2 linked regions of the Homo sapiens genome follow. The protein of the gene in region 1 purifies or fractionates together with the protein of each later gene. This does not show direct contact. Each region holds a gene or a part of one and is shown in the gene's direction. Other genes may lie near its edges.

Region 1 (3,654 bases):
AGCCCTGGGGGTACCCCACCAGCTCCACACTCAGGGAAACCAGGGCTCTGGGGTGCCTCTTGGAGGGAGGAGTGGCTGGGGGTCTCCCAGCATCCGTCTGCTCTCTCCTTCCCAGCAAAGCCTCATTTGAGCCCACTTGCAGACCCTCATCCCCAGCAGCTACTCACCTTGACTGCTCCACGAGGCTGTTGGGGGCCAGGCGGGAGCAGTTTCCCATGAGGGCCTGTCCTGTGGGGCCTCCTGCCTGTGCTGTCCTTTCCCAGCTTCAGCCTGGCAGCTCCTTTGGCTGCTTCTTTTCCTCTGGCTCCCATCTTCCAGGAGTTGGAGCACAGGGCTTCTTTCTGACTTACTTGCCTCTTTTGGGGGAGAAACAACTCTTTATCCTTCCTCGCTTCCTCCTGAGTGAGTCACCAGAGGGCTTGTGGCCAACCTCGACTTCAGGCCCCAGAAGCCATCTACTTCCTGCTGTGGAGGATGATGATGAGAAGCCTTTTGCTGAGCTCCTCCCCAGCCCAGGTGTCTCCCAGGAGCCCCCGCAGGCCGTCTGAGCTCATTCTCAAGTGCTTAATCCCAACCCTCCCAGCTTCTACCCTCCAAGCCCAGTGGCTTCATCTTTGTGATCTACACTTCAGGGCGTCGATCTCCCATTGTCTTAACTATCCTTCTCGGGACTGTGTCTATGCAAACATGCAGCCTATTGTGAGCTGGCCAAGGTGCTGTGTGGGGCTGGAGCTCAGAGCAGGCACGATGATCGCTCCTTTTTTCTTTTCTTTCTTTTTTTTTTTTAATACAGCAGCTTTATTGCAATGTAACTTACATACCATATAATTCACCTATCAAAAGTGTACAATTAGATGATTGTTAGTTTAGTCACAGAATTTTGCAACCATTACCACTATCTAATTTCATAAATATTTCTATCACCTCAAAATAAACCCCATTCCCATTAGCAATCACCGCCAATTTCTAATTTCATCAATATTTCTATCACCTCAAAATAAACCCCATTCCCATTAGCAATCACCGCCAATTTCTAATTTCATCAATATTTCTATCACCTCAAAATAAACCCCATTCCCATTAGCAATCACCGCCAATTTCTAATTTCATCAATATTTCTATCACCTCAAAATAAACCCCATTCCCATTAGCAATCACCGCCAATTTCTAATTTCATCAATATTTCTATCACCTCAAAATAAACCCCATTCCCATTAGCAATCACCGCCAATTTCTAATTTCATCAATATTTCTATCACCTCAAAATAAACCCCATTCCCATTAGCAATCACCGCCAATTTCTAATTTCATCAATATTTCTATCACCTCAAAATAAACCCCATTCCCATTAGCAATCACCGCCAATTTCTAATTTCATCAATATTTCTATCACCTCAAAATAAACCCCATTCCCATTAGCAATCACCGCCAGTTTCTAATTTCATCAATATTTCTATCACCTCAAAATAAACCCCATTCCCATTAGCAATCACCGCCAGTTTCTAATTTCATCAATATTTCTATCACCTCAAAATAAACCCCATTCCCATTAGCAATCACCGCCAATTTCTAATTTCATCAATATTTCTATCACCTCAAAATAAACCCCATTCCCATTAGCAATCACCGCCAGTTTCTAATTTCATCAATATTTCTATCACCTCAAAATAAACCCCATTCCCATTAGCAATCACCGCCAATTTCTAATTTCATCAATATTTCTATCACCTCAAAATAAACCCCATTCCCATTAGCAATCACCGCCAATTTCTAATTTCATCAATATTTCTATCACCTCAAAATAAACCCCATTCCCATTAGCAATCACCGCCAATTTCTAATTTCATCAATATTTCTATCACCTCAAAATAAACCCCATTCCCATTAGCAATCACCGCCAGTTTCTCTCCAACCACCATAGTCCCTGGCAACCACTGATTTTTCTGTCTCTATGGATTTGTCTATTCTGGACATTTCATATAAATGGGATCACGCTGTATGCATGACCACATCGTTCTTGACCACAGCTCTGCCAAGCAGCCAATCCGGTTTGGATTTGTTGTGGTTTTAAACTACAGGCGGTTACGGGTAGCATTCAGCGAGCTTCATTGTCGGCAGAGGGAGGATTTCTATTTTTATTTTCCCTCATCTTCCCAATGATGCCCAGGATCTGCGTGGCCTTTTGCACTAATGCCTCAGGGAGCAGATGGCCCATCTCCCAGCTTCATTTCTAGGGCCAGCCCCATGGCTTAGAGCAGACCATCTGCCCTGTGTGGTTTGGGCAGGATGCCCTGGTGTAGGTGTGCTAACACCTTGACTCCCTGGTCACTGTCTGCCTGTTACTCCCACAGGAACCCATTGCAGGTCTTTACATGAAATACTGTCACTCTCCCCACACTCTCTCCATATGGAGTTTCATGCCTGTGCTTCCTGCAGTGGCCCACCTTCTGTTCCTCAAAGACACCATGGCTTTTGCACCTCTGTGCTTTCGTATCTGTGTCCCCACTACTTGAGATGCCCTGCCTTCTATCTTGCTCCCTGGGCAGACTTACCCTTCAAGACGCACTTCAGATGTGATGCCCACTGAGGCGTGGACAGGGCTCGAAGCCATGGCTCCCTGGGGTTTGGCTGGGCCCCAAGGAGAGAGAGGCAGAGACTGGCTGAGCAGATCATGCCCAGTTCCTTCTTTCAAACTCACTCTTTCTCCCAGGGTGAGGTGTGAGTGAGGAGCAGGGTGAGAGGCCAAAAGGGTTACCTAGAGTGGGCCCCCCACCTGGAGGCAGGAAGGGTGAAGGCCAAGTATCTCCTGCCCCTCAGTACCTGTTGCCTTGTCTGTTATTGGCACTCTAAGCAGCTCCAGCTGTGTCCTGATGGGTGGATGGGCCCCTTCTAGGTGACACCATTGCTGACCTTTATGGCCACTGCATCCCCTCAGCCCCCAGTCCCTCCAGCGTATTGTGGAATGAGATTCCTGGGCCCATTTCCTGAAGGAAAATTCTGATCTGGCTTTGAAAAGTATATGGTGCTTGATCTGGGACGGTCATTCTGCTGGGCTGATGAACCCCAGAGTGACAGGCACGGCATTTGTAGATTTTACGGATGGGAATGTAGGGTTTAGGCTGAGGGGGCTCATGTGGGCTGCCACTAGGAAGTGAGCGAAAATGCCCAGGACAGGGTTTGACGTCTCCTGGATGATTTTCCTTCTTCCTCACTGGTGTTAATCAGTCGCCATTCTGTCTCACTCTGGTTTTACCTCTAGACCTGATGGCATATTTTTCTAACTTACCTCCCTCCCCTTGCACCCCTGGATTCATCTGTGACTCGGGAATTTGAAAAGCCTGAGCATTTCTGGACAAGAGTCTGCCGACTATCTTGTTCACCTGGTGCTTGCCCCCGTCGCTCAGGAGTAACTCTATGCCTTTCTCGTTGATCTTTTCAGCTTTTCCTCTTTAAGATACAAGATACAAGGAGATACAAAGATACAAAGAAGCTTCTAGCATGGATAGATGAGAGCCACCCTGTTCTTATCACTCTCCCGTTCCACCCACCACTTCTCATCGCTCTGCATGAGGGATGATGTAAAATCATCAGCCTCCCCCAACATTGAAAGCTGTCATTTCTCTCCCCTGGGGTCTCTGGCCAAATATTCCTCCA
Region 2 (3,654 bases), on another chromosome or scaffold:
TTTTAATTTCTACGGAGCATATTTTATTTAAATTTATTGAACTTGAAGCAATTTTCGTTCTTTTCAGCCTTCACCTTCAGCCTATACCAGAAGTTCCCAGACATACAAGAGCTTTGTGTTCTTACATAAGTGCTACTAACCTAAAGCCACATTTCAAAAGCGGTTTGCCTATAAGAAATTAGGGAAGTCATCACAGTGTGTTATTATCCTAACCTATGGTCATGTATCTTTTTATGTGCCTCAGATGCATGATGGAGTTGGTGGAAGGCAGGAGATTAGTAGAGAACTTCGAAAGAACAGAAGGATCATTTGCATTGGACAGTAGTGTTTCACAATAGAAATTGATGTCTGGGAGAATGCCCCTCAAGCTTTCCCTTTTTCACTTTAAAGAAGCTTGTTTGCTTCCTCTCACTTCCATAACGTCTATATTGGATAAAACACTAGTGGTTATTATAACAAAAATAAACTTTGCAGTTGGAGGAACACTAATATCTGAGACAGTAGAAATGACATGAGTAAAGAAGGGCTGCTTCAGACCATTATTAACTGGTGACTTGATGTTTTTCTTTTGGCTTGCTGATGGCGATCCATGTCCCTATTTCAGACCACACTTTTCCCATCAGTGATACTCTTACACTAATAAACATATCCCAAGGGCAAACAGGTACACTAAAATGAGCTTATTCCTATCTTTCAAGACCATGATGAAAACTATCCTAATGAGTCTTCACTGATTACTAAAACCAGATGGCCAGTCAGCATCTGAATTCCTAAATCATTCTGTATTATTCATGAGACAGCATATTTCCTTAAGTATTAATGTTTGGGTCTGTAACTTTTTTTTTTCCACTCCTCTCAGCTCATACCTATGGGTACATATTCTTAATACTATGTTTTTAAACTGCATGGGGTAATGGGACTTACTAATAACTAATAATTCTTTTTTTTTTTTTTTTTGAGACAGAGTCTCGCTCTGTCAGTGGTGCGATCTCCGCTCACTACAACCTCTGCCTCCCAGGTTCAAGCGATTCTTATGCCTCAGCCTCCCAAGTAGCTGGGACTACAGGTGTGTGCCACCATGCCCGGCTAATTTTTGTATTTTTAGTAGTGACAGGTTTTTGCCACGTTGGCCAGGCTGGTCTCGAACTCCTGGCCTCAAGTGATCCACCCACCTCAGCCTCCCAAAGTACTGGGATTACAGGTGTGAACCACTGTGCCCAGCCTCTAATGACTCTTAAATTCCCTGAATGCATCTGTGTCATTACCCCCATTCCCACCCCCACTACTGGGATGTCTAGCAAAATTCCTTGCACATCGTTTTTGAATAAATCATACATTATTGGATTTTTTGTTTTCAAACATTTTAATTAATCATTAGAATGACATCTTAGCTGGAAGTGAAACCTTCCATCTGTGCTCCTCTGTACTGCTACCTCCCTACTCTGGCCCTCTACTTCCCGCTGGCCTGTTAGTCAGGAACTACAGCGTTAATTGAAATTGAGTGATCTGCTAAGGTTAATCTGACTTTTCTGGTTTTCTAAGGTTATCAGTGACAGGGGTTAGGCTTGGACTGCTAAGATTATTCTCTGCCACAGGAGATAACCTGGTATGAAATTGGACTGGTGTGTTTTCTTACATGTGTCTTCCTATTTTTCTGATTCAATTCCTTTCCCTTTTTAAAACCCACTGACTCTTAAAAAAACCTACAATCTTTCTGTCGTGTAGCTAGTTTGGTTTTTTTTTTCTTTTAGCTGTGCTGTTAACAGTTCTGTAGTAGCTGTGACTACCCTTTGGGGACTGGGGAAGAAATGGGAAATGTTGAACATTTGGAAGCTGCAGCTAATATGGGATTGTTCTTTGGGGGCGGGTCTCTTAGTCACAGTACTGTGACTGTATTGATACATGTAATCTGAAGAGAATCTTAGAATATTTCCACCAGAAAGGTTTTTGGAGATAAACTAGTTTTCATTTTTATAAATGTGGAAACTTGAGTCCCAGATCACCATAAGTGACTTATCTAGATTCATACAACTTGTCAATGGCAGCCAGGAACCTGACATGCTTAGCATAGAAATCAGACTATCAAGAACTATGACAGTAAAGGAGGAATTCTCTGTTATTTTGGAACCGTATACCGCTTTTTACAGCCCAGTCAAGATGTAGGAAATTGCTTCTTACTTCGGAGAAAGGCACCAGCGAGCAGTGTTACAGAGCTTGATTAGAATGATCCCTGGTAAGAAGTGCTATGTTACTACAAGTTCACCAAACCTAAAATTGTGGGAGGAAAGTATTCTTGTTTCTTAGTTAAGTATTGGTGTAAAGAGTTCCTTTTAACATCTGAAATCAAGAGGCAATTGAAGATTTCAAAGGACCCATCAGGAATTTTGGAGTTCAGGGCAGGCAAAGAAAATCTTTAGAAAAGATTTTAAATGGCCTAATTCTTTATATGCTTTGCCACATTTTTCTTCTGCTAGTTCATCTTTACACGTCACTATATAGGCTTCTGGAGAATAGCATGTGTAAATTTAAGTAATAAAGATGAACCATGTGGCAATACAGTTGTTCTTTAGGTACAATTATGTGATTGATTATGGGGGTGGGATGGAATAGGGGCATTTGTGACCTAATAGTTCCCTTTTCCCTGAGGACTAGGACGATAATGTTTCTGTATATGGATTTGTTAGGGCTTAATAGTTTTCCAAGTGCTTCAAGACATGTTAGCTAATTGGATCTTCACAGGAACTCTATGAGGTAAGCAGGATAGAAAGGTGGCAGATTATTGGTTTATAGGTGAAGAATCTGAGGTTGGATTATTTGCCAAGATCACATGGTTAATAAGGAGCATAGCCTGGGCCAAAGCCCGAATCCCTTCACTCCCAGCTCTCTAAGTGCTGCTGACAGATGTTTGCTGATTATGGTGTGAAGTTGTATACTTTAGTATTTCTTTCTGAGACATACAAACCCCTGTAGTAAAATTCTTTCCACTACTACCAAAGAAGCTCAAAAAACTTAAAATAGGCACTTATTGCTTCCAAAAGTACCACAGAAAGCCAGGAATCTGTATTCATTGCCTAGCCACTTGATTCTTATGACAAAGATTTTGAAACTCTGGGGAAAGGCTATGTGTCAACTTGTTTTATGTGTCATGATTGTTAAAATGCTAGAGAAAACAGCAAAGAGCCAGTTAAATCTGTGTCTGCTCAAATAAGACAAGGGGCAAGAGTGTGGAAAATCCAGAACAAGATTCCCTGAGAGATCATCTAGACCCCGTTCTTTCTAGTCAGAAGTATAGTTGTGATTAATATGACATTAATCTTTTGCAAAGTTTAATTCTTGGATTCAGCCATCTGCTTTAATTTTAACACATCTGTTTTGTAACCTAAAATAATTTTAAGGTGTTTGTTTATTTGTTTGTTTGTTTTGAGATTACGATTCTTAAGAATAGATACAAGTTTTAAACCTTGGATAAAACTAATTTTTATTCTTCTGGTTCAGTTGTAGAACAAATACAGGTTAAGTTGTCTTCCAGCTCTTTTAGATAAAGCAATATTAGTGGTTTTATAGTGCTAAGTGAAAAGAGACATTAGAATTTCACCATATTAAACTATCTCCCAAGAGTAATATGAGTGAGGGAAGTGTTCCTTTTAAAAGTCA

The links. Proteins that work in one complex are often made in the same cells at the same time.
Region 2: the proteins of SNPH (region 1) and KIF2A purify together in Homo sapiens (affinity purification with western blotting, with the first as the bait; one study listed by BioGRID). This does not show direct contact.

The regions. Positions count from the first base shown.
Region 1 is NC_000020.11:1,300,732-1,304,385, forward strand, and holds part of SNPH (syntaphilin), read left to right. Parts: intron 1-3,654. UniProt on the Homo sapiens protein: Inhibits SNARE complex formation by absorbing free STX1A.
Region 2 is NC_000005.10:62,309,131-62,312,784, forward strand, and holds part of KIF2A (kinesin-like protein KIF2A), read left to right. Parts: intron 1-3,654. UniProt on the Homo sapiens protein: Plus end-directed microtubule-dependent motor required for normal brain development. May regulate microtubule dynamics during axonal growth. Required for normal progression through mitosis. Required for normal congress of chromosomes at the metaphase plate.